2 separate regions of the Homo sapiens genome follow, and region 2 is linked to region 1. The links come from fine-mapping of genetic effects on gene expression. A gene starts in region 1. The other region holds a variant in brackets. All regions are shown on one strand. Distances are between the middles of the regions. Region 1 holds the start of ZFP1 (ZFP1 zinc finger protein). Region 2 overlaps ZFP1 (ZFP1 zinc finger protein).

The links. PIP is the estimated chance that this variant, and not a neighbour inherited with it, causes the effect.
Region 2: its variant is the best candidate, but not a certain one, in a credible set for the expression of ZFP1 in lymphoblastoid cells (GEUVADIS, PIP 0.66).

What each region holds. Positions count from the first base shown.
Region 1 is chr16:75,145,519-75,150,899 of GRCh38, reverse strand. ZFP1 (ZFP1 zinc finger protein) reads right to left here and starts at 2,376. Exons shown (of 4, transcript NM_153688.4): 1 at 2,257-2,376. RefSeq lists a silencer at 1,786-2,155 and an enhancer at 2,516-2,565.
Region 2 is chr16:75,165,554-75,170,934 of GRCh38, reverse strand. It overlaps ZFP1 (ZFP1 zinc finger protein), which reads right to left. Exons shown (of 4, transcript NM_153688.4): 3 at 4,039-4,165; 4 at 1-1,682. The coding sequence ends at 601. Among named protein-coding and RNA genes, the nearest start is that of ZFP1, 20 kb to the right of the region's middle. The variant C/TC (reference allele first, on the strand shown) is at 2,388.

The sequences.
Region 1 (5,381 bases):
ACAGCTGTGACTGAACCACTGCACTCCAGCTTGGGCAACAGAGACAGACCCTGTCTCAATCAATCAATCAATCAAGGAAGATTCTACGATCAACAGCACAATATTTATTCAAATACACACGAAACAGTTACCCAGAGAGATCATCATATCCTCGACCTTAAAACAAACTACAACAGGCCTGGTGCAGTGGCTCACGCCTGTAAAGCACTTTGGGAGGCCAAGGTCAGCGGATCACTTGAGACCAGGAGTCTACTAAAACAAAATGAAACAAAAATACAATACAAAAACAAACCACAACAAATTTAAAATAATTGAAATTCGTAACACAGTATTCTGACCAAATCAGAATTAAACTATAAATCAATAATATAAAAAGATCTGGGCCGGGTGCGATGGCTCACGCCTGTGATCCCAGCACTTTGCAAGGCCGAGGCAGGTGGATCACCAGGTCAGGAGATAGAGACCATCCTGGCTAACACGGTGAAACCCCGTCTCTACTAAAAATACAAAAAAAAATAAAAAAATTAGCCAGGTGTAGTGGCGGGCGCCTGTAGTCCCAGCTACTCTGGAGGCTGAGGCAGGAGAATGGTGTGAACCTGGTAGGCGGAGCTTGCAGTGAGCCGAGATCTCGCTACTGCACTCCAGACTGGGCAACAGAGCGAGACTCTGTCTCAAAAAAAAAAAAAAAAAGATCTGGAAAATCTCCAAAAACTTGGAAATTATGCAATACAATCTAAATAAATAAGGGTAAAAAATGAAGTCACAAGGGAAGTTAAAAAAATTTGAATTGAATGGTAATGAAAACACAATAAAAAGGCTGGGTGCAGTGGTTCATGCCTGTAATCCCAGCACTTTGGGAAGCCAAGGCGGGAGAATCACTTGAGGTCAAGAGTTCTAGAGCAGCCGGGCCAACATGGTGAAACCCCGTCTCTACTAAAAATACAAAAATCAGCCAGGTGTAGTGGCGGGTGCCTGTAATCCCAGCCAGGAGGACTGCTTGAACCCGGGAGGCAGAGGTTTCAGTGAGCTGAGTGCCACTGCACTCCAGCCTGGGTGACAGAGTGAGACTCAGTCTCAAAAACAACAACAACAGAAAAGAAAATACAAGATATAAAAATTTGAGTGATGTAGTTAAAGTAGTATTTAGAGGAACAGTTACATCAATAAATTGTGTCTGGCCGGACGCGGTGGCTCACGCCTGTAATCCCAGCTACTCGGGAGGCTGAGGCAGAGCACTACTTTAACCCAGGAGGCGGAGGTTGCAGTGAGCCGAGATCAAGCCACTGCACTCCAGCCTGGACGACAGAGCGAGACTCCGTCTCAAAAAAAAAAAAAAAAAAAAGAAAGTAAAGAAAAGAAACGGTACAATACAAAAATATAGTATTACAATCACATAGGACCACCATTTTACATGAGGTCCCTCGTTGACAGAAACACTGTTACGCAGAGCGTGACTGCACCAGAATCATGGGAAAACTTTCGTATTTCAAAGTAGTGAAGAATTTTGGGTGCCCCAAACGGAAAGAACAGTAAATTCCACCCGAGAGAAATTTAAAACGTCAAAACGTATACATGGCAAAATCTACCAGCGAGTAAAATCAAAAGATAAATGAAAAAATATCTGCTGCTCACATAAAGTACCACCGGGTTGTGAGACCTTAGGGAAATCACTTTCCCCTTCTGAACCTCCCGTGTTCCTGGGATAGCGACGGAGATGATAACGCTGGAAGTCACGGGGTGGATGCGAGGATCAGGGGAACACCTCACTGAAGACCCTCTGACAAAGGGATCACGGTTCTCCTTCACCACCGGCAACTGACCAGGCTCCAGTCCTTCCTCCACCCACGAGGCACCGGGCATCGGGGCGTGGCCAGGTGTGTCAGGCCACGCCCCCACCACGCCCCGGCGGGGCCTCGTCCCGCGCGCGCGCGCCCGCCGGGGCTCCAGAACTCGCTCCCGCGCGGCCCGAGCCCTTCGCCGCCCGTCTGAGGCGCATCTCCTGACAAAGAGAAGAAGGCGAAGCCTCATAGCCGCCCTTCCCTCCGCCGTCCCCGCCCCCGCACGTTCGGCCAGGCGTGCCCCGCCGGCCCCGTTCAGAGGCGAGCGCCGGGCAACCCCGGACGCCGCCCTGAGGGTCACTGCCGCCTACGAGTAGCCGAAGTTTGGGCTCCCACCCTGCGCGGGCACGAGCCCATCCCTCATCTCCTTCCCCTCGGCCCCAGGCCGCGCGGAGCTACCTGGAAGCCCCTCTCGTACCTGGAGGGGCGCAGCCTCCACTCGTGGCCCAGTGCCACAGCGGGTCACGGCGCAGGGCGGCGAAGACGCGCGGAGACGGGGGCTCTGTCACCCACTCGCCGCTGGTGGTGGGGGAAGGGCGGCCACCGGCGCGCTCGCAGCACTGCACATGCGCAGAAACAGGGGCGCGGGCCGTTCCCAGGGTCCTCGGAGGGGTGGACCATCCACGTTCGGGACTACATTTCCCACAAGCCTCCGGGGCCGCGGCTTTAGGGACTCTCAGGAAAGTCTTCGCCTTGTTAGGCGGTCTGATGAGCCGACCAAAATAATCTCCTTAGCCTGCACTGTTTTCTTTTTTCCCAGAGTGGGTCGTGAACTACAATTCACCACCTCCCCCTTAAATACAACAACTTGGCTTTTAAACATTACACAAATAATCTATAACTGTATTTAATTAGAATATATGTACAAAATAAAGTATCCATAATCTCACTTTCTAAAGATTAACTGCGTATAACATTAAGTTCGCACTTTGATTTTTTTGTTGTTGTTACAAAACTGGCCATAAAGGTATCATGTGCTGCAACTAGCTTTTTTCCCTTTTTTCCCAGGCCACTTTGTTGAGGTATATATATTTGTTGAGATCTATATATTTAAGATGTACAACTTGATATCTACATTTGTGAAATATTCACCATAATCAAGCTAATTAACATGTGCATCACCTCACATAGTTATTTGTCTGATGAGAACACTTAAGATCTATCTTCTTAGCAAATTTCAAGTACACAATATTGTCAACTATCGTCACATAGCTGTGCATCTCCCCAGAACTACTCATCTTGCATAACTGAGACTTTGTACCCCTTGACCACCATCTTCCCATTTCCCTTCACCCTCAGTTCCTTTCATCCTTTAGAACAGTTTTAGGTTCACAGCAAAATTTGAGCAGAAAATACATTGAATTCCCATATAACCCATGTCCCCCCAGCACACACAACCTCCCCAAAGTTGATATCCCACACCAGAACAGTGTATTTGTTACAATTGGTGAACCTACAGTTAAATATCAGCACCTGGCCAGGCTCAGTGGCTCACACCTGTAATCCTAGCACTTTGGGAGCCTGAGGCAAGCAGATTGCTTGAGCCGAGGAATTTGAAACCAGCCTGGCCAAAATGGTGAAACCTCATCTCTTAAAAAAAAAAAAAAAATACAAAAATTAGCCGGGCATGGTGGCACGCACCTGTAGTCCCAGCTACTCGGGAGGCTGAGGTGGGAGGATCACTTGAGCCTGGGAGGCTGAGGTTTCAGTGAGCCAAGATTGTGCCACTGCACTCCAGCTTGGGTGACCCTGTCTCAAAAAGTATAAATTAAAAAACAAAATCATTGGCACCCAAAGTCCATAGCTTACATTAGTGTTCACTTGATGTTGTACATTCTATGGGTCTTGACAAATGCCTGTAACCATTACAGTATCGTACAGAATAGTTTCACTGCCCCCCAAAAAATCATCTGTGCTCCATTTATTCATCCATCCCACAACCCCTGGAAATCTCTGATATTTTTACTGTCTCCATAGTTTTGCCTTTTGCAGGTTGTCATATAGGTGGAATCATACATATGTTGCTTTTTCAGATTGGCTTCTTTCATTTAGTAATATACATTTAAGTTTCCCTCATGTTTCCCTCAAGTTACCCTGGCTTTTTTTTTTTTTTTTTTTTTTTGACACAGGGTCTCACTCTGTCACCCAGGTTGGAGTGCAGTGGTGCGATCATGGCTCACTGCAGCCTCCACTTCCTGGGCTCAAGTGACCCTCCCAGTTCAGCCTCCCAAGTAGCTAAAACTACAGGCATACACAGCCATGCCTGGGTAATTTTTTGTATTTTTTGTAGAGATGGCATTTTGCCATGTTGCCCAGGCTCGTCTCAAACTCCTGGGATCAAGAAATCCTCCTGCCTTGGCCTCCCAAAGTGCGGGGATTATAGGGATGAGCCACTGTGCCCAGCCTCAGTTCGTTTTAGTGCTGCATAATATTCTACTGTCTGCATGTACCAGTGTTTTAAATCCATTCACCTACTGAAGATACATTGGTTGCTTCTAAGTTTTGGCAACTATGAATAAAGCTGCTCTAAACATCTGTGTTCAGGTTTTGTGAGGATATAAGTTTCCAGTTCATTTGGGTAAATCGTATGGTTGCGGCCGGGTGCAGTGGCTCACGCCTGTAATCCCAGCACTTTGGGAGGCCGAGGCGGGCGGATCACGAGGTCAGGAGATCGAGACCATCCTGGCTAACACAGCGAAACCCTGTCTCTAATAAAAATACAAAAATAAAAATTAGCCGGGCGTGGTGGCGGGCACCTGTAGCCTCGGCTACTTGGGAGGCTGAGCCAGGAGAATGGCGTGAACCTGGGAGGCGGAGCTTGCAGTGAGCCGAGATTGCACCAATGAACTCCAGCCTGGGCGACAGAGCGAGACCCCGTCTCCAAAAAAAAAAAAAAAAATTAGCATGGTTGCTGGATTGTGTGGTAACAGTATGTTAATGAGACAGGAGAGTTCCCTGGACCCCTTCGCGGGACTTGTCGTGGCTAGCTTACTCAGCCACTGTGCTAAAACCCCTTATGGGAGGGGGAGCACAGAGGCAAGTGGGTGCCAGGGCCAGGGTGAGCACCTTTGGGCTCTGGCCCCATGGTAGCATCTAGGGGTGTGTTACAATTAATGCTCTTCTAGCAGTTGCCATCCATGGACAGCTAAGCGTTAACCAGCTCAGTGGAGAGTGAGGGTGACAGCCTTTTACACCCTGCCCTCTTAATACCCAGGTCCTTGTCCAGCATCCAGAAAGGATCAGGTCACATGGACTTGAAGAATGGTAAATGCAGAGGTTTTATTGAGTGAGGGAGGTGGCTCTCAGCAGGATGGGGAGCTGGAAAGGGGATGGCGTGGGAAGATAATCGTCCCCTGGAGTTCTGCTGTCCCTGGCCAAATTCCTCTCTGACCATCCAGCTACCTCTTCAATGCTCAATTGCTTCTTCTCTTTTCTCCTTCTCCACCACCTTGCTCTGCAGCTCTGCCCCTCTGCCCCTCTGCTGCTCTTCTGTTTGTGGAGCCTGGGATTTGGGGTTCTTATGGGCACAGGATAGAGAGCAGG
Region 2 (5,381 bases), 20 kb before region 1:
CAGCTCAAGAACAATGTTCATACCAACTGATATATGCCAGCAAGCAGTAGGGAAAGACGTAGGTTCCATGCTACTTTAAATGTTACACATTTCATTTGGAATGCATACTGGATTGCAGAGATACTGAAAAACACATGTGATGTTTAGTATGGAAAATCTTGTTATGTCCTAATTATCACAGAGGACAAGAATTTCAAATTCCCAGTGATTATGCTAAATTCACATGTGCAGATCTAAAGCATACCACTTGTGTTTTGTGGCATATCCACATAAAACCACTAAATTCATAGGATACTGTTTGTATATTTCTTATGCTGCTGTCTAGAATACTCAATTCATTCAAGATTTTAAAAAGCTCATTGTAGTACAACTGGGTATGGCTATTTACAACTGGATATATTCTGATATGTATTCTTTAGCTGGGTATCACATGTAACTTCCAGTATAATGTTCTCATGGGATCCTATTTTTAATACATTTTTGAGTTGAGAGATTGCATCTCAGTATGAATTCCCATGTTCCCTCAATACTGTCATGAGGTTTTTCACCCGCTTGAAGAGTTCTGGCAGGAGTTTTCCACAGTAAGACCTGGCTGGAGTTTCAGGGTTTCTCCCCGATGTGAACTCTCTGATGGACACTGAGTCGGGACTTCCTGCTAAAGGCCTTCCCACATTCGGAACACTCATATGGTTTCTCTCCTGTGTGGATTCGCAAGTGTAATCTAAGAGTTGACCTCTGGCTGAAAGTTTTGCCGCACTCAGTACATTCATAGGGTTTCTCTCCTGTATGAGTTCTCATGTGTATGATGAGCTGTGAGTTCTGGATAAAGGATTTTCCACATTCACTGCACTCATAGCGTTTCTCCCCCGTGTGAATCTTCTGATGTATGATAAGGTTTGACTTCTTAAAGAAGGTTTTTGCACATTCGTTACACTCATAGGGTCGCTCTCCTGTATGAATTCTCTGGTGTGTGGTGAGTTCAAACTTTTGGGCAAATGTCTTTCCACATTCACTGCACTCATAGGGCTTCTTCTCCATATGTGCTCTCTGGTGTACAATGAGGTTTGACTGGTGGGTGAAAGCTTTTCCACATTCCGGACACTCGAAAGGTTTCTCCCCAGTGTGAATTCTCTGATGTTTGATGAGGTTGGCCTTATGGGAGAAGGTTTTCTTACATACATTGCATTCATATGGCTTTTCTCCAGTATGTATTCTCTTATGACTAATGAGGAGTGACTTAAAGGAGAAAGCCTTGTCACAGTAAGTACAAATGAAAGGTTGAACCAAGTTTTTTATTTTCTGATGTTTAAAAATGGCTGCTTTATGGCTGAGGGCTTTTCCACTTTTATTGTATTCAGAATATTCTACTCCACTGTGGGTTTTCTCTTGCTTCAGGTAGAGAAGTGCTTTTCCAAATTCATTACACTCATCAGTCTGCTTTCCTGCATAGCTTCTATTACTATTAAGCAAGTCTGAATTATATTTCAAAGTTTTTTCATATAAGTCATATTTATAAGGTACTTGTCTTAAAGAAACAAAGTCTGTGTTCAGATTAAGTGCTTTTCCAAAGAGATCGCCTCTTTCCTCAATTGGGGTTTGGTTCTTAAGAATTAAAAATTGCCTCGCCTGCTCGTCTGGGTTTCTGTGGTCTCTCTCCATCTGGTCATCAGCCTTCCACACTTCTAGGAATAGAGAGCACAATGAAAAGAACCTTGTCAATGCCTCCGCTATAATGTTACCGAATGGGAAGTCTTCACACGTGTTCTATCACAGGGCTGACTCTTTAGTTTGGGACCCAGTCTCCCAATATTAAAAAATTCCCAGTGCAAATGTTTCCTTTCAAACTTTGAAAGAGAAAGGTAATAGCTTGTGGTTAAAAAAACAAAACAAAACCAAAATCAATACAAGTAGCATTGCCAGATCACAAAATGACCTTAAAGTGGGCAGAGAGGGTGAAAGGAGACAGAAAACAGAACACAATATGAGAAGGCTGGCAATGCCAGGGAGGGAGATTCACAGTGTTCTTAAGGACACTGCAGTTAGCACAGAGACCGAGAAAGTAAGCAGATGAGGGAATTAAGGGGAAACACCTAAGCAGATCTCGACTAATAGTATTATTTGCTAAACTCGGACTACTATGGTAGAACCAGCACCAGTCTGCATAGTTCTAAGCTTTTTCTCCTTTTTTTCTACTGTTCATCTTTACCAAAATGATTTCCAGAGAACAGCACTTCTCATAGGTTTGCAGTGACAACCAGATAGCAGAGCTCCAAATCTCTTAAGTGAGAATCTTGCAAATGGTAAAATCCAGAAACTCATTCGCTAAGAGATACACAACCCTTACCACAGGATCACTAACTGCTGCTGGTTTTATTGCTTTTTTTTTT[C/TC]TACTGAAGTTGCTGGGAGAGTGAACATGTTTTCACTATCATATCCTACTTTTCTTCCATTCCTATTTAGAGATAGGGTCTCCCTCATTTGCCCAGGCTGGAGTGCAGTGGCACAATCATAGCTCACTGCAGCCTTGACCTCCTGGGCTCAAGGGATACTCTCAATATTCCAGGCATGAGCCACCATGCCCAGCCTACTTCTTTCAATGTGTTCAGCATCTTAAGGATAAAGTTACCCAGGTTCATTAAGTCAAACAACAGATACTGGCAAGGCTAAGATACACTGTTGGTGGGAATTTAAATTAGTTCAGCCACTGTGGAGAACAGTCTGAAGATTTCTCAAATAATTCAGAACTACCCTTTCACATAGCAATCCCATTAAAAATCATCTGGCCAGGCACACTGGCTCATGCCTGTAATCCCAGCACTTTGGGAGGCCAAGGCAGGAGGATCACTTGAAGTCAGGAGGTCTTATTTTTGTTTTTTTGAGATGGGGTCGGTCTCTGTTGCCCAGGCTGGAGTATAATGGTGTGATCTCAGCTCACTGCAACCTCCGTCTCCCGAGTAGCTGGGATTACAGGCACATGCCACCATGCCCGGCTTATTTTGTATTTTTAGTAGAGAGGGGTTTTCACCATGTTGTTGGTGCTGGTATTGAACTGACCTCAGGTGATCTGCCCGCCTCAGCCTCCCAAAATGCTAGGATTATAAGCATGAGCCATGGCGCCTGGCCTGGGGTCAGGAGTTCTACAGAGAACTTGTCTCTACAAAAGTAAAAAATAATTAGCAGGACATGGTGGTGTGTGTCTGTGATCCCAGCTACTCCAGGCTGAGGTGGGAAGACTACTTGAGCTCAGGAGGTGGACGCTACAGTGCACCGTGATGTCACCACTGGATTCTAGCCTGGGTGACAGAATGAGACCCTGTCTCAAAAAAAGATTCTACCAAAAAGACACATGCCCACTCATAGGTTCATCACAGCACTATGCATAATAGCAAAGACATGGAATCAACCTAGGTGCCCATTAATGGTGGACTGGAAAAGAATGGTACATGTACAAGACACAACAAAGTTTAAGATATGTTAGGAAAGTTTCAGGGTTCAAGTGTGAGAGGCAAATATCTATAAGATTAAACAGGAAAAAAAAAAAGGTAAGCAGGGAGAGACGGATATTTGGAGGTATGCTTCAGAGATTGAGGTACAGGTCATCTGTCCTCAGCTATACTTAAGTGTTAGGGATTTGAAAAACAGATTGCTGAAAAGTATTTCAAAGGTACTGAGCTGCTCATAATCGTCTGGATACTAATTCCACTGGCTTCTGCTTCTCCCTCTCTCCCGTCCTATCTCCCTTAGAATGTTCTGAATTGACAACTCTATGCTACCCAAAACTCTTCTGGTTGCTCCAACTTGAAAATTGCATATGGCTTGACAGCCATTTACTAATGGGACATAGCTCCTAATTGCCTGGACTTCAGAAGCCTTAAAGGAAAGGAGATGATAGAGCTTTAAAGGCTGCAAGATCTCTCAGGTTTAATACCTGAGGACTTAGGCCAAAAACATTTAGTAATTCAGAAGCTCATTTCTGGTCACTGAGACAGGACATAAATACCTCTAGGCACATGGTGAGCTGTACCTGAAAACCGTCCTTACCCACTGAAAGTAAGTTGCTATAATTCTCCAGCATCACATCCATGTATAGGATCCTCTGAGAGGGGTCCAGTTGTTCCCATTCCTCCTGGGTAAAGTCCACAGTCACATCCGTGAATGAAACTGATCCCTGAAATGGCATATTGTTATTCATCCTAAGATGATCATTTGGTGATATAGAAAGGATAGATGAAAACTTTATGTCATTCATCATGAAAATCTATATATTACACCAACGATACATCTTGTTCACTGTTTTTGTTCATGTCTTCCAAAATATATTTTTATAAATAGTTGAGATTTATTCAGATTCCCCTATATCTCTGGCACTGTCATATTTGATAGGTGTCTCAGATTAATAAAACACTATTGGCCAGGCATAGTGGCTCACACCTGTAATCCCAGCACTTTGGGAGGCTAGGTGGGCGGGGGAATCACTTGAGGTCGGGAGTTCGAGACCAGCCTGGACAACATGGTGAAATCCCATCTCTACTAAAATTTAGTCGGGCATGGTGGCACATGCCTGTACTCCCAGCTACGTGGGGGAGCTGAGACAGGAGAACTGCTTAAACCCGGGAGGCAGAGGCTGCAGTGAGCCAAGACTGCACCACTATACTCCAGCCTGGGCAACAGAGTAAGACTGTCTCAAAAAATAAACACTGTTTCTGCTCTCAAGATGTGTACTGTGAGACAAGCACATTAGATATTCATTGTTACCAGTGTGCTAATAAAGCTCACATAGGCATTATTTCTGTGACATCGATGTTTAAATAGTCAAAGTTTTAACTCTTTAAGGCAGAAGATGAACTTCCAACTGTAAAATACCAGGTACAAGTAAGGATCTCTGTCCTTCCATCCCCTCATTCAAGCCATAAAAATGGTAGAAAATTTTTTTAAAAAATACATGGTTGAATTTAACAGGCCAGAATGGCTGAAGAAATGATTAGTCAAAAAATGTCAGTAAATATCTAAACTGAAATGCAAAAGGTACATTAAGGAGCCTAAAAGATATGTGGGACAAGCTAAAAAGGTCTAATATACTTGCAGCAGGAGTCCCAGCAGAGGCAGTGGAAACAATATTTGAAGAGATAACAGCTGAGAATTTTCCAACACACCCCACACCAGGCTATAGTTTTAAAACCAGCAACCCCAAGTACAATAAGTACATTAAAAAAAAAAAATACTCAGCATATAACAAAACTGATTTAAAACCCCAGAGGTGGCCAGGCTCAGGCCTGTAATCCCAGCACTTTAGGAAGCCGAGGTGGGCGGATCACAGGTGTTCGGGACCAACCTGGCAAAGATGGTGAAACCCCATCTCTACTAAAAATACAAAAATTATCCGG